5 separate regions of the Homo sapiens genome follow, and regions 2, 3, 4 and 5 are each reported to be linked to region 1. The links are microRNA targets in miRTarBase. Many come from high-throughput screens and were not tested one by one. Region 1 holds a microRNA gene; each other region holds the end of a gene's coding sequence.
Evidence for each region. Region 1 holds the annotated microRNA hsa-miR-4514 (ACAGGCAGGAUUGGGGAA, at 1,489-1,506, opposite strand). A microRNA usually pairs through its seed, bases 2 to 8, with sites in the 3' UTR of a target mRNA and lowers its output. Matches are read on the target gene's strand: a 7mer-m8 pairs with bases 2 to 8, a 7mer-A1 pairs with bases 2 to 7 and ends in A, and an 8mer does both.

Region 1 (4,119 bases):
ATAACTGGTCCAGCACACAGGGCTCCCTCACACACCCAGCTGCAGGTGAACAGAGAGAAAGCATGGAGGGAGGAAGGGAGGGTGGAAAGTGGGGCTGGGGAGGAAATGGGAGTGATGTGTGAGGTACTGCCCAGGTGTTCTTACTGGATGGGAACAAAATATGCCAGAGAGCAAGAGGACATGCCAGGTAAGGAGAGCGAGGTGTTAGACAGTGATCTTGCTCCCTGGTGAACCAGGGGCTGTTGTCATGCATCACCTATGACAATGAAGGAATCTGGGGAAAAGAAGGAGAGATATAAATTCCTCTCTTTTACAACAGATAGTGAAAGGGAAATAATGCATATGTATAAGAAAGATAGCCTGAGATGTAATTGGCCCATCTGTGTGCACAAAAGCAAAACAGAGGGACATTGCTCCAAAGGGAAAAATAATTAGGGCAGAGAATGCCTCTTACTGACCAACAGGTGGCACTACAGACCAAACACAGCATGGTTGTTGGTCTGTAAAGTGTGGGGTAGTGTGAAAGTTGGGTATCAAAACCCAGAGTGGCCAGACAGGCTCACACCTGTAATCTCAGCACTTTGGGAGGCTAAGGTGAGAGGACCACTTGAGGCCAAGGGTGTGAGACCAGTCTGGATATCAAAGTGAGACTGTGTCTCTGAGACTTTCTCGCTACTAAATAAATAAATAAATAAATTTTTGATAGAATGAAAAGATCCGGAGTGCTTACAATGGAATACCGTTCACCCATAAAAAAGAAGGGAAATTCCCATGTATGCTATAATATCAATGAATCTTAAAGACATTATGTTAAGGCTGGGCACGTGGCTCATGCCTGTAATCCCAGCACTTTGGGAGGCCAAGGCAGGCGCATCACGAGGTCAGGAGATCGAGACCATCCTGGCTAACACAGTGAAACCCCGTCTCTACTAAAAATACAAAAAAAAATTAGCTGCGTGTGGTGGTGGGTGCCTGCAGTCCCAGCTACTCGGGAGGCTGAGGCAGGAGAATGGCATGAACCCGAGAGGCGGAGCTTGCAGTGAGCCGAGATCGCGCCACTGTGCTCTAGCCTGGGAGACAGAGCCGGACCTCGTCTCAAAAAAAAAAAAAAAAAAAAAAAAGATATTATGTTAAGTGAAATAAGCCAGGCACAAAATAACAAATATTGTATGGTTCCACTAACATGAGGTACCTAGGGTAGTCAAATTCATAGAGAAAGTAGAATGGTGGTTGCCAGGGACTGGAGGAAGGGGGAGTGGGGAGCAGTTACTTAATGGGTATGGAGTTTCAGTTGGGCAAGATTAAACATTTCTGGAGATAGAGGATGGTGATGGTTGCACGATAATGTACTTAACAATGGGTAAGATGATATTATGCTATTTTACCACGATTTAAAACATAAAAACAAAACAGAATGCCCATAATGTTCTCTTATACCAAGTGGTGGATGCACCTTCTAAAACAGGCAAGAGACGAGGTAAAAGATGTTTCCCCAATCCTGCCTGTCTCAACCTGTCAGTTCCTCTTGTCCTGCCCAAATCCTCAGTTCTCTCTTTGCAACTTGTTCACTTACTTTTCATCAGATGCCTATTTCAGTGTAGGCCTTGAGCCAGTATTGAGAATGCATTCTCTAGGGGCCAGGCCATTTACCAGCTCCCTCTCATCCACTCCATTTACCTTCCCTCAGCCAATCCTCAGTCCACACATTTTCCGCTTTCTTCTCTCACTCAACATCCATTAAAAAAAAAAATACTTAGTCCATTTGAGCTGCTATAACAAAATACCTTAGACTGGGTAATTTATAACTAATAGAAATTTATTGCTCACAGCTCTAGAGCTGGGAAGTAGAAGATCAAGGCCCCAGCAGGGGCCCATTCCTCATAGATGATGCGTCCTCTATGTTGCTGCATCCTCCCATGATGAAAGGGCAAAAGAGGTGAACAACTCTCTCACACCTCTTTTATAAGGCCACTAACCCCATTCAAGAGGGCTCCACCTCATGACTTAACCATCTCCCAAAGGCTCACCTTGTAATACTGTGACACTGGTGATTAAGTTTTAACATATGAATTTGGGGGTCAGATCACAGCAAATACTTTTGATTTATATTTATTTTAATTTTGAGAGGGTTAGAAGGGGTAATAGGTGGAGTTTTCTAAAGAAAAAGCCATTGCTTGAGTGACTCTAAGGGCAGACACCAACAAGCCATCCTCTAATTAGACTAAAAATATGCAACAGCAACAGACAACCCTCAAATCTCTGTGACTTAACACACCAATAATTTACTTTGTGTTCACATTGCATGTCCACTACAGATCAAGAGGGTCTGCTCCACATGGTCACCTAAGCTTACAGAGGCTCCACCAACTAGAATGCAGTCTCCGTGGTAGTTATAGGAGGGCAAGAGAGTGGAGAATTACAGATTGGCTTTTCATTGTCTCAGCCTAGAAGTAACCTGCATAGCTTCCCCTTACATTTCATTGGTCAGACAGAACCACATGGCCCTGCCTACCTACAAATATTGTATCTGTGAAGCCTGATTATCTCTGCTATAGGTTTTTTACTCTGTGCTCTCACTGTGCCAATAGTGAAATTGTGGCTGTTTCTTGTGAATCTACTCCTATCCCTGGACTCTAAAGAGTGGGGGCCTCATATTACAAATTATGTAACTTTGGTGCCTAGCACAAGACTGGTGCCCAGTGATTGTGGAGTGATTGAACAATCGGACAAAGTAAAGGTGAACCTAAAGAAAGGTGGAGGCAGTGCCTGGGAGGATCAGTTTAGGAGCTTCCCTATCTGAAAAATGAAGCAGGGAAGGCCGAGAAAACAATGCTATCAGTTTTAAAAATGAAACCAAACCTCACTGAATAGAGTGGACAGTCTGTGTGTAACACAACTCATTGTCGGGGTGGGTTTCCATCAACAACAAAACAGACTGCATATGTAGAAGAAAGGGAAAATGGGACCCCCAGGGGCACTACGTGGCTTTGGAAAAAAAATCTGATCTTAGAGCAGCCTCAAGAATAAACTAGGCACAGAACAGTCTGACTTCCCTCTCATAAGTTTTATTTATTTATTTATTTATTTTTTTTTGAGACGGAGTCTCCCTCTGTCGCCCAGGCTGCAGTGCAGTGGCGCGATCTCCGCTCACTGCAAGCTCCGCCTCCCGGGTTCATGCCATTCTCCTGCCTCAGCCTCCCGAGTAGCTGGGACTACAGGCGCCCGCCACCATGCCCGGCTAATTTTTTGCATTTTTAGTAGAGACGGGGTTTCACTGTGTTAGCCAGGATGGTCTTGATCTCCTGACCTCGTGATGCGCCTGCCTTGGCCTCCCAAAGTGCTGGGATTACAGGTGTGAGCCATCGCTTTCGGCCCCCTCTCATAAGTTTTTGGAGCTTAAGAAGGACTAAGGTGCAATCCCTGGGTCACCATGGAAAAACCTTGACTTATCCAGCTGTTTTTTTTTTCTCTTGTAGAAGAAAAAAAGGAATTAACCCTACATAATTACTTCCTATTTCAAGTCAGTTTTATTGACCTCGGTTTGCAAACTAAGTGGGCTCATCCGGATTCTAAAGATATTTAAGGATACTTTCAGTTATAAGTAGGATGACTATCCATCCAGGTTTGAACCTGCTGTTCATGGTTAATTTATTAATAGCATGTCTCACAGTTCATTCTCAGAAATGCTTGGATATGGCCGATAAATTGAAACGTCATCCTAGTTAAAAGTAACGTTTTTAACTGGCTGGAGAAAGGTGACTTGGGGTTCTAGGAAGGGACAGAGGAACAAACATTCTGTTGGCTCAGCACGCCCAGCCTGTGTTGGGCTGGGCACCTTAGAGGACCTGTTTCAGGACTGCGTGACTGGCGTTTTGCTGGGAGTAGCCCAGGTGTTTTAACCACTTCCTGAAGAACAAGGTTCGGTAAAAAGAGGCTGGGGCGTAGGCGTGGGTTCCTGTCCCTGCCATATGCTGTCTTCCTGATCTTCGGAAGTCACTTCAAGCACCTGATCATCAGTTTCCTTATCTGTAAAACTGGAGTAGTAATGTTTCCCTCCAAACGCCGTCGTATTTAATTCATTTAACAGCAGCCACTATTATTCCATTATACAGACGAATA
Region 2 (4,119 bases), not on the chromosome of region 1:
TGTAATTTACAGAGTTGTTCTTTAAGATCATCAGAGAATAGCATTAATCTTTCTATTGCCATGGATTTGTATTCTCCACCCTTTGTCTATTTGTCTGTTCTAATGGCCAGCAAACCAAAGGAAGTTACAACAGTGAAAGTGAAAGCATTTATTGTAACCTTAACTGGAAATCTCTCAAGTTCTGGTGGTATTTGGAGTATAACTGCAAAGGTGTCTGATGGTACTGCATATCTAGATGTAGACTTTGTGGATGAAATACTTACTAGCTTGATAGGGTTCTCAGTACCAGAAATGAAACAGTCAAAAAAGGATCCTCTTCAATACCAAAAGTTCCTGGAAGGGTTGCAGAAATGTCAAAGAGATCTAATAGATTTGTGCTGTCTAATGACTATTTCATTTAATCCTTCCTTGTCTAAAGCAATGGTACTGGCATTACAAGATGTTAATATGGAACACCTTGAGAATCTAAAGAAGCGGTTAAATAAATAATTAAACTAAAATAGTATTAGGAACAATTAAAAACAACAAGGAAATATTTAGAATTTGTTCACAATTTTACTTATGATACTTTGTGTAAAAAGGAAAAATGAAATTTCATAGCTTATTTCAGTTTAATTTTAAAGTGTTTAATCATGTTTGTTATATGTGGAGCTTTTGAAAATAAGTTAATCTTTTTTTTTTTTTTTTTAATGTCAGGGTATTGCTCTGTTGCCCAGGCTAGAGTGCAGTGGCATGATCATAGGTTATTGCATCAACCTCTTGAGCTCAAGCGATCCTCCTGCCTTAGCCTCTTGAGTTGCTGGGACTATAGGCATGTACCACCATGCCCAGCTAATTTATAATTACTATTATTGTTTTGTAGGGACAGAGTTTTGCTATGTTGCCCAGATTGGTCTCAAACTCCTGGCCTCTCACTCCTGCCGTCATGGCCTCCAAAGTTTACTTTTTTTAAAAGTAACTGTTAGATGGAGGAATATGGTGACCCACTATTGTTGAGAAATTTGTTTTCCACTTGTCACGTCACATAAGATGATTGCTAAAATATTGTACTGGTGTTCGGTGGTGAGTCATATTTTTGAAAGTTAATAATTATAAATAGGTAATTTCCTTCTAATATGTTGGTACTGTCTATGGCCATACCACCCTGAACATGCCTGAGCTTGTCATAATATGTTGAGTACCCAAAAGATTTGTTTATATTGTTAATCTTAGGGAAAAAAAATTAAAATCCAGTAGATCAGAACATCAGGCTTTCAGATACAAATTGATTTACTGGTTTTTATTTTGCTGATTATAATATTTGGTATATTTAAGGTAATCTAGTTAACTAGATGCTATTTCATAGATTATATTGAATGATTTAAAACTTTATTTTCAAGGATAGTTTATTTTAAATGGCATATTGAAAACATCATTATTAAGATCCAGTAGGTAGGACATTTATTGGATTAAAATGAAGCATTTATCTATGTCTTTAGGTGTCATTGTTCCCTTTCTGAATTAGCTGTACATATAAGCCTTCCTTTGGTTTTAAGTACTGATTTTTTTTTAAAAAAAAGAGGGACTGTTTACCATTCTTCCACTGTGCTGTTATAAAGTTGTATTTGAAAGGTAATGTTGTTTTTATTAATCTTTTGTCTTAAAATAATTTAAAGTGCTTTGAATTTTAAAACATTAAACAAATCCTTAAATAACAAAATACATTGGTGTTTTATTTTATTGAAAATAATGTAACGAAATATCAGGAAGTAAGATAAATACATGTATGATGTATGATAATAGAAGTAGAAGAGAAAGATTTTAAAATATTTTCATTGTTGTATCAGGGTTCAAAGCACCAGGACACAGATATTGCTAATATATGCCCTAGTAATAATCTTGTCTATATACTTGCATAGCTTTTTAATAAGTGATCTGAATGGGATAGCTTTATCTTTCATTATCTTTTCATTAAATTTTCTCCTTCTATACTCTCATCTCTGTGAATGGGGCTTGAAAATTGGGATTAGAACTTCTTTTCATATTGTCATTAAAGACTGGCTATCGTACTTTTTATCAATCTATGCTACTATATTGGTTCTTGGTACATCCTGTTTCTAGTCTTCTCTGGCCTGGATTACTGCAGTGGTTTACTAATTGGTCTTTTATCTTATTTTGCCCTCAAACCGTACTCCATAATGTTAGCAGAGTGATCTTTCGAAAATAAGTTTCTTCTTGTTTTCTCTTCATTAACCTTTAATACCAACCTCCTCCCACCCCATTACTTATAGGGTGAAGTCCAAACTCCTCATTGAGTAAGTAAGGACTTTCGTGATCTGGCCCCTGACTTCTTTTTTAGCCTTATCTTGCCCCATTACTCTTTGCCTCTGAGTTTTAGGGGTACCAAGTTATTTGTAGTGCACTAAACATGTGGAAGAATATACCTCTTACTTTCATACTCATGCTTATAGTGCCTGATCCCCCTACCTTCCTAAATCATTTCCAATTCAGTTTAAGCTTTAGGTGCCTGTTACAGTGTTTCATGAATTCCCCTGCCCACTTGCATGCTCTCCTGTACGTTGTACAGACTAATATTATGTGTGTTTTTACTGTGCTTGTTTCTCTGTTATTCTGCTGCTACGTTTTTGGTAGGATAAGTCTTATGGGGCTGTCCTGTGTGCATTGTAGGATATTTAGCAACATCTTTGGCCTCTGCCCACTGGATGTGAGCAGCATCCTTCCAGCTGTGACAACCAAAAATCTCTCCAGGCATTGCCAGATAGTCACTGGAGCTGGAGATGCCCCCAGTTGAGAACCATTGTTCTGTTGGAATATAAGCTGCTTGACAGTATGGTTGAGGGGTTTACCTTGTAGCTCCAGTAATATTTCATCAAATCTGATCATCTTCTGTTGCCTAATATCTTTTGTGATTTCCCGTCATCCATTCCAATAGCATGGTACTTAAAGCCCTGACATCTATGCATACACAGCATCTCAAAGAGCTGCTCTCTTTAGTGAAAGAATAGATTAGGGCCGGGCGTGGTGGCTCAAGCCTGTAATCCCAGCACTTTGGGAGGCTGAGGCAGGCGGATCACAAGGTCAGGAGATCAAGACCATCCTGGCCAACATGATGAAACCCTGTCTCTACTAAAAATACAAAAAAATTAGCTCAGCATGGCGGTGCGCACCGTAGTCCCAGCTACTCGGGAGGCTGAGGCAGGAGAATTGCTTGAACCTGGGAGGCGGAGACTGCAGTGAGCCAAGATCGTGCCACTGCACTCCAGCCTGGCGACAGTGAGACTCCATCTCAAAAAAAAAAGAATAGATTAGAAAAATCTGGCCTATAGTAAAGAGTGACTGAGAAAACTTGGATGACTTGGTTTAGATTCTGGTTGGGTGGGGGAAAATGTGTTCTTTTCCCTGAGAATTTGTAGCCATAGGTCTGTGCTTATGTGGGGCTAACCAGACACTTAAAAGTTACCTGCACGGTAATCTCCGGCCTAATAATTTAACACAAAAAAGAACGATCCTAAGAGTTCCTGGGAGAAGCAAATGGGAAGAAAAAAATAAGCATAATCAGATGAGCTTTCTCTTTCTCTTGGGAGTGACTCTGCTTTCAGAGTACAGTAGCCCTTTGATATCCATGAGGGACTGGTTTCGAACCTTCCACGGATACCAACATCCAGATGCTCAAGTTTCTGATATAAAATGGCACAGTATTTGCATATAACCTATGCACATACTCCCATATACTTTAAATAATTTAATTTCTAGGTTACTTATAATTCTTTTTTTTTGTTTGAGACAGGGTCTTGTTCTGTCACCCTGGCTAGAGTGCAGTGACACAATTACAGCTTACTTCGGCCTTGACCTCCTGGGTTCAAGTGATCCTCTTGTGTCAGCCTGCCGAGTAGCTGGGACCACAGGTGTATGCCACCACGCCCAGCTAATTAAACTTTTTTTGTAGAGATAGTGTCTCACCATGTTGGCCAGGCTGGTCTCCAACTCCTGTCCTCAAGCAATTGTCCTGCCTCTGCCTCCTAAAGTGCTTAATACAATGTAACTGCTATGTAAATAGTTGTTATATTGTATTGTTTAGAGAATAATGACAAGGAAAAAATGTCTGTACATGTTAAGTAC
Region 3 (4,119 bases), not on the chromosome of region 1:
ACATAGATTTCCAAATCTGAAGTCTGTCCGAGAACTCATTTTGAAACGTGGACAAGCCAAGGTCAAGAATAAGACCATCCCTCTGACAGACAATACAGTGATTGAGGAGCACCTGGGTGAGTGCTACAGCTTAGGGATCAGCTGGGGCAGAAAGCCAGGGTCTTTGAAGCTTTGATGTGAGATTCAGGTTGTATTCTTCTTGGGGCCCCAAGAGTCTGCCAGAGTGGCCAGCTTAGTATATGCTGGATACATGTTAAATAAAGGAATCTGTGCTTTTGTGTTTCTTAGGGAAGTTTGGCGTCATTTGCTTGGAAGACCTCATTCATGAAATTGCCTTCCCAGGGAAGCATTTCCAGGAGATCTCATGGTTCTTGTGCCCTTTCCACCTCTCAGTGGCCCGTCATGCTACCAAAAATAGAGTGGGCTTCCTCAAGGAGATGGGCACACCTGGCTATCGGGGTGAACGCATCAATCAGCTCATCCGTCAGCTGAACTAGACCCAGGTGAGGCAGGGCTGAAAACTGCCCTTGGGCTGACTTTTGATAGGCCATGCCTTGCCACTTTACAAGTTCTTTTTGCATTTACTAGTATTTAAGAGTAACCTTGAGATTGGGAGGAATAGAGGAGGCTGGTACAAATAGATGGAGACCTGCTGGGATCAGTGAATGCCTGATTAGGACATGGGGCTATGCATAGCCTAAGAGTTATAGGCTTAAAGATGTCGAGTAACTAAAAACTGTATTGCTGGCCGGGCGCGGTGGCTCACGCCTGTAATCCCAGCACTTTGGGAGGCCAAGGCGGGCAGACCATGAGGTCAGGAGATTGAGACCATCCTGGCCAACATGGTGAAACCCTGTCTCTACTAAAAATACAAAAATGAGCTGGGTGTGGTGGCGCGTGCCTGTAGTCCCAGCTACTCGAGAGGCTAAGGCAGGAAAATCGCTTGAACCCAGGAGGCAGAGATTGCAGTGAGCCAAGATTGCACCAGTGCACTCCAGCTGGGCGACAGAGCGAGACTCCATCTCGGAAAAAAAAAAAAAAAAACTATTGCTGCAGTCATTCAGATGGAAATGAGGAAAGAATAATATTAATAACTGATTTCAAAAAGGACTTGAAGATGTGAATCATCTATTTTGCTGAAGAAATCTTAACTCTTTGAAATTACTTTTTATTGCTGTTGTCATACTCTTAGGTGCCAAACTGCGGTAAATTTTTTATCAGTGAAGTGGAAGCATGTGTTTTGTTTTGGAAATTTTTATCAAGTATCTTCAGAGAAGATTATTTCCTGCTTTATCTTCAGAAACTGGAAAGGGTCAAAGAAAAGACAGTAGCTGGCCGGTCGTGGTGGCTCATGCCTGTAATCCCAACACTTAGGGAGGCTGAGGTGGGCAGATCACCTGAGGTTGGGAGTTCGAGACCAGCCTGACCAACATGGAGAAATGCCATCTCTACTAAAAATACAAAAATTAGCCGGGCATGGTGGCACGTGCCTGTAATCCCAGCTACTCAGGAGGCTGAGGCAGGAGAATCGCTTGAACCTGGGAGGTGGAAGTTGCAGTGAGCTGAGATCACGCCATTGCACTCCAGCCTGGGCAACAAGCGAAACTCTGTCTCAAAAAAAAAGAAAAGACAGTAGCATATGTTCATGTCAAGCACCTCTCATCACAGTCGAGTTCCAAGGAAAAATTCCAGTGTTTTCTGCATTGGGTGCTGTGTCATCTGAAATCGGCACATTCCATGGAGGAAGGAGTCCTGCTTTGTTGCATGTATCCTAGGGTTTAATGTTGGTAAATGAGTCACTCTAGCATTTGTAGAAGGCTCCCTGAGACTCCTGCAGCAGTCGACCAAGCCCAAGGACATAATTGAATCTGGAGAGTCCTGGGGCCTTGTTTTGAAAAAGACTTGAAATACACATAGGAAGAAAGGCATAAAAATAAATGTTCACTTGTCTCTGCTGTGAGTATGTGTTCCAACTTTTCAGTGATGGCTTTGAGAATTCTCAAACTTGACTGGCTCTAAGTGTATCTGGTGGCTTTTGTATCGTAACCTGAAACTGGCTTAGTACTTTTTCCTAAAAGCTCAGGATTTGAGAATGAGGACCCCTTCGCCAGGAAAACATGTATACACTCAAAATTTTGCTTGCAGTTCTAGGGTGTTTAGACCCTTCTCAGATACCTGTGCATCTTATGGGTTTTGTTTTTCTCTTTGAGACAGTCTCACCCTGTTGCCCAGGCTGGAGCGCAGTGGCATGATCTCAGCTCATTGCAGCCTCCACCTCCTGGGTTCAAGTGATTCTGCCTCAGCCCCTTGATCAGCTGGGATTACATGCATGTACCACCACACCCAGCTAATTCTTGTATTTTTAGTAGAGATGGAGACAGAGTTTCACCATGTAGGCCAGGCTAGTCTCAAACTCCTGACCTCAAGTGATCCACAAGCCTGGGCCTCCCAAAGTGCTGGGATTACAGGCATGAGCAACTGCGCCCAGCTCTTGTGTACCTTATGTGAGGAAGTCCTGCTCAATCAGGATCGGTCACGCAGGCCCTGATCTTGCTACTCTGGTTCCATGTCCTATGGAAGACCAAAGTTTACCAAGATAGATTTTTCCCTTCATAGTGGCAGATAGTGTTAACCCCTGCACCATCTGTAACTCAGAAATCCCCACCATTTCTTCCCCTGGGCTTCAGAATAGAATTGCCTGGTTTCTCTGATGATCAGCATGGTTCCTTAAAACCCAAATCAGCAAGGAATGAACAATTTTGTTTGGCATGGATGAAATTAGCACTGTTTGGCTCGTTAGGCCCCAGGCAGGCAGGCACCTTAATTTTTTCCTTGCATATTCTAGTCTTCAGAAGCATTGCCTTTTGTCCTACTGGTAGTGACATAGACCAATAACAGGGCATCTGGGGATTTTAATCCTGAAAACAGTGAGTCTGATACTGCTTGTGTTTTTCATCAGTGTCCACCCCAAGTGGGTCTTCCTGCTATTCTCTTCACTTAGTTGCCCCTCACTTGCCATCTGAGCAATTGGCAAGGATGTGCCAGGCCTAGGTTAAACTTGGAAACATGCTTGACCATTCTATTCCCTGGTCCTTTAAGATCAGTTTGGCTGCAATTTTGGCTCCTTGGACCCTCAAGCATAGCTGGTAAATCAAGTTAGAGATGTAACTGCCTTAAAACATGCCAGCTTAGGCTGGGCACGGTGGCTCACACCTGTAATCTCAACACTTCAGGAGGCTGAGGCAGGCAGATCACTTGAGGTCAGGAGTTCGAGACCAGCCTGACCAACATGGAGAAATTCTGTCCCTACTGAAAATACAAAATTAGCCGGATGTGGTGGTGCATGCCTGTAATCCCAGCTACTTGGGAGGCTGAGGCAAGAGAATTGCTTGAACCCAGGGAGGCAGAGGTTGCAGTGAGCCGAGATCACACCATTGCACTCCACCTTGGGCAACAAAAGCAAAACTCTGTCTCAAAAAAAAAAAAAAAAAAAGTGCCAGCGTATGAGGTAATTAGATTGGTTCTCTCCAGAGGTAACCTGCCAAGAAGAGATGCTATAGATGTTACTCCTATACTGTAAAACATTGTGAAATCAGATTACTTTAAAATGATGTATTACAAAGTTATGCAAAAAAGCAGTTGTGACTATGGAAGCCCAAGGCTTATATCCCAGCTCTGTCTTACACTAAATATGGGTACAGTGTTTCCACTCTGTCCATAAAATGGGAGCTAATATTCTCCAACCTGTGTGCCTGACATGATGGTTAAAGGGATTAAACAAAACAATAGTTTGTAATTTATTCTGTCAGAGCAAACTGCTGGTAAATAAAAGGGACTAAGTTGACGAAAAATAAATTTTAAAAAACCTAATAAAACAAGTTTGTAATTTATAATTGTATACAAATAAAAGATGTTACAAAAATTGCGCACTTATATGTATGTACCATGACATAACTAATTCGTTGAACAAGTTGTGAGACAATCCTTTCTGAGAAAAGGTAGACCTGTTACATCGTCTGTGGGTTAGGGTCATGTCAGCACGTACCAGGTACATTCTAGCTTTTGTAGAGAAAGTAAAATCTAGTGTTGAGTATGTAGGCACTGAGCCAGGTGGCCTGC
Region 4 (4,119 bases), not on the chromosome of region 1:
AAGAATATGAGGCAAATTTTTTTAATGGAATACTGACTACTTTCAGAAGAAATGAGAGTTGTGCAAGAAAGGGAATGTAATCAGATTATAGTAGTTGACTCAGCAGTAACCATATTGACACAGATACAACTGATACAAATTTTAAAGTAGTATTTAAATATAAATTGTAGACTACATTGGAAGATTTTACCTCGTTTACATGATAGCGACTAAATAATGTCTACAACTCATACGAAGATGAAATATCAGTTTGTGTGTCTTACTTAGAACTGCAGATGTCAGTACTAGAAGAAACAGCTAGAATCACTGAAAGCAGTTTCTCCAGGCAGCAAGAGGAGCTAAAGGGGGCAGGTCAAGTAACCTAGAGCCCTGTAAAACTTCTAGTTTTATAGACTTTATACTTCTAGTTTTATAGACTTTATAAAATTTCTACTTTTCTATAAAAATTCTAGTCCTATAAAACTTTAGAGTGTATTATTACTTCCATAATTTATTTTTTGAGAAAAGATCTCGCTGTCTTACCCAGGCTGCAGTGTAGTGACACAGTCACAGCTCACTGCAGCTTCAATTTCCTGGGCTCAAACTATCCCCTCATCTCAGCCTCCCAAGTAGCTGGGACTGCAGGGATGCACCACCACATCCAGCTGGGGTGTGTGTGTGTGTGTGTGCATGTTGTACAGACTGGGTTTCGCCATATTGCCCAGGCTAGTCTCAAACTCCTGAGCTCAGGCGACCCACCACCTCAGCCTCTCAAAATGCTAAGATTATAGGCATGAGCCATTGCACCCAGCCTATTTTCACGGTTTTTTAAATTTAATCCCAATCGTGTACATTTTGAAGGGGCAATCCTAGAAAATTTTTCAACTGAAAAGTGGGAAGTCTTGACCTATCCCAAGCTTATGAGCAAAAAAATTACTTTGAAACATTCTATGTGAAAACAAAGAAACAAAAGTGGTAACTACTTGCCCCCTACAGAGAATGATTACATAATGCATGGTACATCCCTACTTTGGAATTCTCTACAGCTGCTAAATCCAAGGAGGTAAAACCTGCCAGGTAATGGCATAGATTAGACTGGTGTCCACGAGACACTGTGAAGCGGAACAGGCACTATGTAATGACATAATATTGCATCTACTCATGTACACAGGAAGGGCTCTGGCAGGGGACACAGGAAAGAGTTGACTCTGGGGAGACGGAGGAGGACTGAGAGGACACTCGTGTGCGTGCGTGTGTGTGTGTCATTTAAAACATTTTTTTACTAATAGAATGTATTACTTCTGTACTTTAAAAATTTAAAAATATGGGGCCGGGCCCCGTGGCTCATGCCTATAATCCCAGCACTTTGGAAGGCAGAGGCGGGCGGATCACCCGAGGTCAGGAGTTCAAGATCAGCCTGGCCAACATGGCGAAACGCTGTTTCTACTAAAAATACAAAAATTAGCTGGGTGTGGTGGCGCATGCCTGTAATCCCAGCTACTCGGGAGGCTGAGGCAGAAGAATCGCTTGAACCCGGGAGGTGGAGGTTGCAGTGAGCCAAGACCGCACCATTGCACTCCAGCCTGGGCAACACAGCAAGACTCCAACTTAAATAAATAATATAACCGCTGAATAGTCTTTTTAAGGTCAGTTTCAGAATGTTCTTGGAGCGGGAAGTTTGCCCACTGTGGAGATTGTTGGTGACACCCTGTGTTGAAGATATGTCTAGATCCGCTTGGGGTCAAAAAGACAGAGCCACGGTGGTGAGAAAGTGACTTACCCATCCTCCTCCTCGTCGTGACCATTTTCCTTGAAGGCTGAGAGTGGAGCTGGGGTATGCCCTGCGACCCGGTCTGGGGAGAACCCAACCGCAGAGAAAGATGTTTCCTTTGGGAGCCCTGGTGTGTCCGGAATTGGTGGGTTCTTGGTCTCACTGACTTCAAGAATGAAGCCGCGGACCCTCGCGGTGAGTGTTACAGTTCTTAAAGGCGGCGTGTCTGGAGTTTGTTCCTTCTGATGTTCAGATGTCTTCAGAGTTTCTTCCTTCTGGTAGGTTCATGGTCTCACTGGCTCAGGAGTGAAGCTGCGGAACTTCGTGGTGAGTGTTACAGCTCTTAAGGCAGTGTGGACCCAAAGAGTGAGCAGCAGCAAGATTTATTGCAAAGAGCGAAAGAACAAAGCTTCCACAGTGTGGCAGGGGACCCGAGTGGGTTGCCGCTGCTGGCTGGGGCAGCCTGCTTTTATTCTCTTATCTGGCCTGATTGGTGCGTTTACAATCCCTGAGCTAGGCACAAAGGTTCTCGACTTCCCGACCAGAGTAGCTAGATACAGAGTGTCAATTGGTGCATTCACAAACCCTGAGCTAGACACAGGGTGCTGATTGGTGTGTTTACAAACCTTGAGCTAGATACAGAGTGCCAATTGGTGCATTTACAATCCCTTAGCTAGACATAAAGGTTCTTCAAGTCCCCACCAGACTCAGGAGCCCCGCTGGCTTCACCCCATGGATCCTGCACTGGGGCCGCAGGTGGAGCTGCCTGCCAGTCCCGCGCCCTGCGCCCGCACTCCTCAGCCCTTGGGTGGTCGATGGCACTGAGCGCGCCCTGGAGCAGGGGGCGGCGCTGGTCGGGGAGGCTCGGGCCGCACAGGAGCCCACGGAGCGGGGGTCGGGGAGGCTCAGGCATGGCGGGCTGCGGGTCCCAAGCCCTGCCCCGCGGGAAGGCAGCTAAGGCGTGGCGAGAAATTGAGCACAGCAGCTGCTGGCTCAGGTGCTAAGCCCATCACTGCCCGCGGCCGGTGGGGCAGGCCGGCCACTCCGAGTGCGGGGTCCGCCGAGTCCACGCCCACCCGGAAATCGCGCTGGCCCGCAAGCGCCGCTCCCTCCACACCTCCCTGCAAGCTGAGGGAGCCGGCTCCGGCCTTGGCCAGCCCGGAAAGGGGCTCCCACAGTGCAGCGGCGGGATGAAGGGCTCCTCAAGTGCCGCCAAAGTGGGAGCCCAGGCAGAGGAGGCGCCGAGAGCGAGCGAGGGCTGTGAGGACTGCCAGCACGCTGTCACCTCTCACTGGGAGCCAGGCGGACCCTCCAGCCACAGCCCGGCCGACCCCTTTCCCACCAGTGCCAGCCACTAAGCCTGTCTGCTCCAAGCCCCTTTCCCGTTTCCCTGACCAATGTCCCTCGGGATTAGGGACCAAGGAGCAGCTGTCTAGGATGCGCGCCTTGCGTCTTCCATGCCCTCCCCTCTCCCTCCTCTTTGCATGCTGTTTCTCAGTTCCCAATAACCAGGCCACACAGAGATTCAAGCATTTGTTTCTTCTTTCCTACGCCATTGAAGAGGCTGACGATTATAATAATTACAATGAATTACAGAAGGAGGTGGGATCTCAGTCCTCCAGGGTCAGGGACTCTTAAACTACCTCCTTTCTCTCTTTGCTCAGCTCTTCCCCATACCCCTGTCTCAGTGTTTCTTCCTTTCCTCAAAATCCTCAACAGAGAAGCCAGAGCTGGGCAGGTGTGGGGTATGGGTTAGCCAGAGGTGTGCTGGGGTCAGGCCACCTCGCCGGTGGCATTCCGCCTTTTCTCACACACCCAGCGGTACACCTGCAGGCAGAAGTCATCGTTCCAGCGGCCATCCGGCTGGACTTCAACACAGTCTTCACTTCCACCCAGCTCGTGCCCGTGCCAATTATCTGGCTGAGTGACAGCCCAGTTCCTAAGGAGGCAAGAGAAAACTCGGACTCTGCCACGGTGGTGAGAAAGCGACTTACCCATCCTCCTCCTCTTCATGACCATTTTCCTTGAAGGCCGAGAGTGGAGCTGGGGTGTGCCCTGCTACCCAGTCTGGGGAGAACCCAACCGCAGAGAAAGATGTTTCCTATGCCCAGTCCCAGCAACCCTCACCCCCAGCCCAGAAGAGCACAGCTTTGGAGGGGTTGGAGTCTGGGGAGGAGAGGATTGGGGAATTTGGTCCCTGAGGGACGAGTCAGGGTAGCTTGGAGTGAAAGGCCAGGGGGCTGTCCCCAGAGAAATCTAACAAGGAGATGAGGGAAGAGGCCACTTACTTGTAGTTGTGCCTATAGTCTGTGCCATCCACCCATTTCCAAGAGCCATCACTGTCCGTGAGACCTATCCAGGTATTGAAG
Region 5 (4,119 bases), not on the chromosome of region 1:
CCACCTCAGGGCCTTTGCGCGGGCCGTTCCTGCTGCCTGGGACACCCTCCAGAGCCCCTCCCGGCTCCCTCTCCTCCTTCAGGTGTCACCTCTGTGGGGCCTTTGCTAACTCACTCTACTCACATTCCTGCCACCTTCCTGGCAGAATGCCCCTGGCCCCTCACCCCCACCTATCTCCAGTGTCTGGGCCCCCTGCTAGAATGGCACTGACACCAGGGCGGGGTCCTTTTCCGGTTTTATTCACTGCTCCGTCCCCAGCAAACTAGCGCAGGACTGGCACCTCCTCAGTCCTTTGGGCCTATCTGTTGAAGTGGAGGAAGAGAAGGGGCCCGCAGGCCCTCACCCTCTCACTCCCCTTCCCCCTGCAGGTCTCCCACGTCTTCACCAACTTTGGCAAGGGCATCCGCTACGTATCTTTTGAGCAGTACGGGAGAGACGTGAGTTCCTGGGTGGGGCACTATGGCGCCCTTGTGACCCACTCCAGTGTGAGGGTCAGGATCCGTCTGTCCTAGCGACTGGACTACTGCCTGACGTTGTCAGTCAAGACCAGCCTTGCAGCCAGGTGCAGTGGCTCACACCTGTGGAATCCCAGCACTTCAGGAGGCCGAGGTGGGAGGATCACTGGAGCTCGGGAGTTCAAGACCAGCCTGGGCAACATAGTGAAACCGTCTCCACAAATAATTTTTAAAAAATTAGCCAGGCATGGTGGTGCCGCCTGTAGTCCCAGCTACTCAGGAGGCTTGGGTGGGAGGATTGCCTGAGACCAGGAGGTTGAGGCTGCAGTGAGCCGTGATTTCACCACCACTCCAGCCTGGGTGAGAAAGCAAGACCCTATATCAATGAAAAAAAAAAAAAAAAAGACCAGCTTTGCAGCCAGAAGCCAGAGGATACCCAGGGACAGTAGGGCTCCCAGGTGGCTGGTTCTCAGCACACCTTCCATGAATCTGCTTGCTGCTGCTTCAGTGTGGTGGCCATCATGCTGTGTGACAAACCAGGCTGTTCACAGCTTCCTCAGCCCCCCAGAAGGGGAGTGTCAGGAAGAGACATTTAGTTCATTTGCCTGCAAATTTTCTTCTCCTGCAAGGATCTCGGTGGACTCAGTCACAAAACAAAGGCTAAACCAGGATTTATAAGAGAGGGCTTATAAATCCCTCTGCCGACGCAGGGAGCAGAGACTTGCCGGCATGTTTTGGGGGTAATGATCGTGGGCAGGGAGCAGAGGTCCGCTGAGGCAGTCTGTCCTTGAGACTAACAAAGTCATCTGCTGTTTGGGGAAATCTCTGGTGTTGGGAACAGGCCCCCAAATCTGGCCATAAACTGGCCCCAAAACTGGCCATAAACAAAATATCTGCAGCACTGTGACATGTTTGTGATGGCCATGACCCCCACCCTGAAGGTTGTGGGTTTACTGGAACGAGGGCGAGGAACACCTGGCCCACCCAGGGCGGAAAACCGCTTAAAGGGGTTCCTGAACCACAAACCATAGCATAAGTGATCTGTGCCTTAACGACATGTTCCTGCTGCAGATAACTAGCCAGACCCATCCCTTTATTTCAGCCCATCCCTTTATTTCCTGTAAGAAATGTTTTTAGTTAATCTATAATCTATAGAAATAATGCTTATCACTGGCTTGCTGTCAATAAATATGTGGGTAAATCTCTGTTCAAGGCTCTCAGCTCTGAAGGCCGTGAGACCCCTGATTTCCCACTCCACACCCTATATTTCTGTGTATGTGTCTTTAATTCCTCTAGCACCGCTGGGTTAGGGTCTCCACAACCGAGCTGGTCTCGGCAAGTGGCACCCATACGTGGGGGCTCGAACCCAGGTCGAAGAGTCACTGGAGCGACGGTTGGAGAACGTGGAACTAAGCTGGAGGACACCCGAGTACTCTTAAGCAATCCCCATGGTGAGTAAGAAGGGGAGCTCGGAAGCATCAGGGTAGCAATGGGACAGGTGTGGGTTCTGGTTCATTCCACCTTGGAACCTTTTCACACTGATGAGGAGCAGGGAGAGTGTAATGAAGTAATGGAAGAGGTAACAGAGCAGGTTTGTTTGCCAGCTAAAGCTAAAGTGGCAAAGGAGGAAGAGGTTCATCCCTACCCTTCTGCATCCCCTCCTTAGTGTGAAGAAAAAGAGTGACCTGACCCTCCAGATCTTTCTTTTCCAGAGGACACTGGGTGAAAAGTAGTTGCCCCAGTGACTGTTTGGGCAGTGCCTCAAGCGACTGCTCTCAGTTCCATTCAGGCAGGAATTCAGCAAGCTAGAAGAGAGGGTGATTTAGAGGCTTGGCAGTTCCCTGTTAGAATACATCCCCCAGATCAACAGGGAAATATTACAGCTACATTTGAGCCTTTTCCTTTTAAATTACTCAAAGAATTTAAACAAGCTATTAATCAATATGGACCAGGTTCTCCTTTTGTAACGGGACTGTTAAAGAATGTTGCTGTTTCCAGTCGGATGATTCCTCCTGACTGGGACGCTCTTACTTGAGCTTGTCTAACTCCTGCTCAGTTCTTACAATTTAAAACTTGGTGGGCAGATGAAGCTTCCATTCAGGCTCCTCGCAACACCCAGGCCCAACCTCAAATTGATATAACTGCACACCAACTTTTGGGGGTCGGCGGCTGGGCTGGTTTAGATGCACAGGTGGTCATGCAGGATGATGCCATAGAGCAGCTTAGAGGAGTGTGCATCAGAGCTTGGGAAAAAATCACTTCAGGTGGAGAACAGTACCCTTCCTTTGGTGCTGTAAAACAGGGACCAAAAGAACCGTACACAGATTTTATAGCTCGGTTACAGGAGTATCTTAAAAAGGTGATTGCAGATTCGGCTGCTCAGGATATAGTGTTGCGGTTATTAGCTTTTGACAATGCTAATCTCAATTGCCAGGCTGCTCTGTGACCTATTAGAGGGAAAGCACATTTAGTTGATTATATCAAGGCCTGAGATGGTATCAGAGGTAATCTGCATAAAGCTACTTTGTTGGCACAGGCAATGGCAGGACTGAAAGTGGATAAAGGAAATACTCCATTTCCTGGAGCTTGTTTCAACTGTGGGAAGCATGGGCACACTAAAAAAGAATGCAGAAAAAAATCAGCAAGTCAGGCCGGCAGACAGGGGAAAAAAGAAAACTGCTGAGCCTGATATATGTCCAAAATGTAAAAAAAGGAAAACATTGGGCTAATCAGTGTCACTCTAAGTTTGATAAAGATGGGAACCCGATTTCGGGAAATGCCATGAGGGGCCCATCCCGGGCCCTGTTCGAAACCAGGGGCATTTCCGCCTCAGGCCACTCCTTCACCCCTGTACAATGTCTGTCCCCTGCCACAGCCAGTAATGCCACAGTAGATTTATGCTGCACAAAAGCTGTGAGCCTTCTGCCTGAGGAACCCCCGCAAAAAGTTCCAACAGGGGTCTGTGGACCCTTGCCAGTGGGGACAATAGGATTACTTCTAGGGAGGTGTAGTTTAAATTTAAAGGGGGTACAAGTACAAACAGGAGTCACTGATTCAGATTACAATGGAGAAATTCAAATTGTTTTTTCTACTTCTGTTCCCTGGAAAGCAGAGCCAGGAGAGCGCATAGCACAGCTCCTGAATGTGCCATATGTGGGAATGGGAAAAAGTGAAATTAAACGAACAGGAGGATTTGGAAGCACAAATAAACAAGGCAAAACAGCTTATTGGGTGAATCAAATTACTGATAAACGTCCTACCTGTGAAATAACTATTCAGGGAAAGAAATATAAAGGTTTGGTAGATACAGGAGCGGACATTTCATTTCTCTATAGCAATGGCCGTCCACATGGCCAATTCAACCTGCTCAGTTTAACATAGTTGGAGTTGGTAAAGCCCCTGAAGTATATCAAAGTAGTTATATTTTGCATTGTGAAGGGCCTGATGGACAACCTGGGACTATTCAACCAAAACTTCTGTACCTATAAATTTATGGGGAAGATATTTATTACAACAATGCGGAGCACAAGTTCTAATTCCAGAACAATTATATAGCCCTCAAAGTCAACATATGATGCATGAAATGGGGTATGTCCCTAGTATGGGACTAGGAAAAAATTTACAAGGTTTGAAGGAACCGCTTCAAGCAGAAATACAAGTTTCC

Region 2: miRTarBase lists RMI1 as a target of hsa-miR-4514. Seed matches in the 3' UTR shown: 7mer-A1 at 1,152-1,158.
Region 3: miRTarBase lists RPL7L1 as a target of hsa-miR-4514. Seed matches in the 3' UTR shown: 7mer-A1 at 667-673 and 7mer-A1 at 3,750-3,756.
Region 4: the mRNA of ASGR2 is a reported target of hsa-miR-4514. The part of its 3' UTR that is shown has no 7-base or 8-base seed match.
Region 5: the mRNA of FBXO17 is a reported target of hsa-miR-4514. Seed matches in the 3' UTR shown: 8mer at 524-531 and 7mer-A1 at 755-761.

Annotation. Positions count from the first base shown.
Region 1 is chr15:80,995,962-81,000,080 of GRCh38, forward strand. It overlaps MIR4514 (microRNA 4514), which reads right to left and starts at 1,512; the gene lies at 1,456-1,512. RefSeq lists an enhancer at 1,595-2,096.
Region 2 is chr9:84,002,376-84,006,494 of GRCh38, forward strand. It overlaps RMI1 (RecQ mediated genome instability 1), which reads left to right. Exons shown (of 3, transcript NM_001358291.2): 3 at 1-1,699. The coding sequence ends at 489. Among named protein-coding and RNA genes, the nearest start is that of RMI1, 24 kb to the left of the region's middle.
Region 3 is chr6:42,885,968-42,890,086 of GRCh38, forward strand. It overlaps RPL7L1 (ribosomal protein L7 like 1), which reads left to right. Exons shown (of 6, transcript NM_001366481.3): 5 at 7-116; 6 at 289-3,933. The coding sequence ends at 497. Among named protein-coding and RNA genes, the nearest start is that of PEX39, 2.8 kb to the right of the region's middle.
Region 4 is chr17:7,098,052-7,102,170 of GRCh38, forward strand. It overlaps ASGR2 (asialoglycoprotein receptor 2), which reads right to left. Exons shown (of 9, transcript NM_001201352.2): 8 at 4,039-4,119; 9 at 3,275-3,689. The coding sequence ends at 3,524. Among named protein-coding and RNA genes, the nearest start is that of ASGR2, 15 kb to the right of the region's middle.
Region 5 is chr19:38,939,001-38,943,119 of GRCh38, reverse strand. It overlaps FBXO17 (F-box protein 17), which reads left to right. Exons shown (of 6, transcript NM_024907.7): 6 at 369-1,719. The coding sequence ends at 512. It overlaps LOC124904713 (a long non-coding RNA gene), which reads left to right and starts at 1,722. Exons shown (of 2, transcript XR_007067253.1): 1 at 1,722-1,906.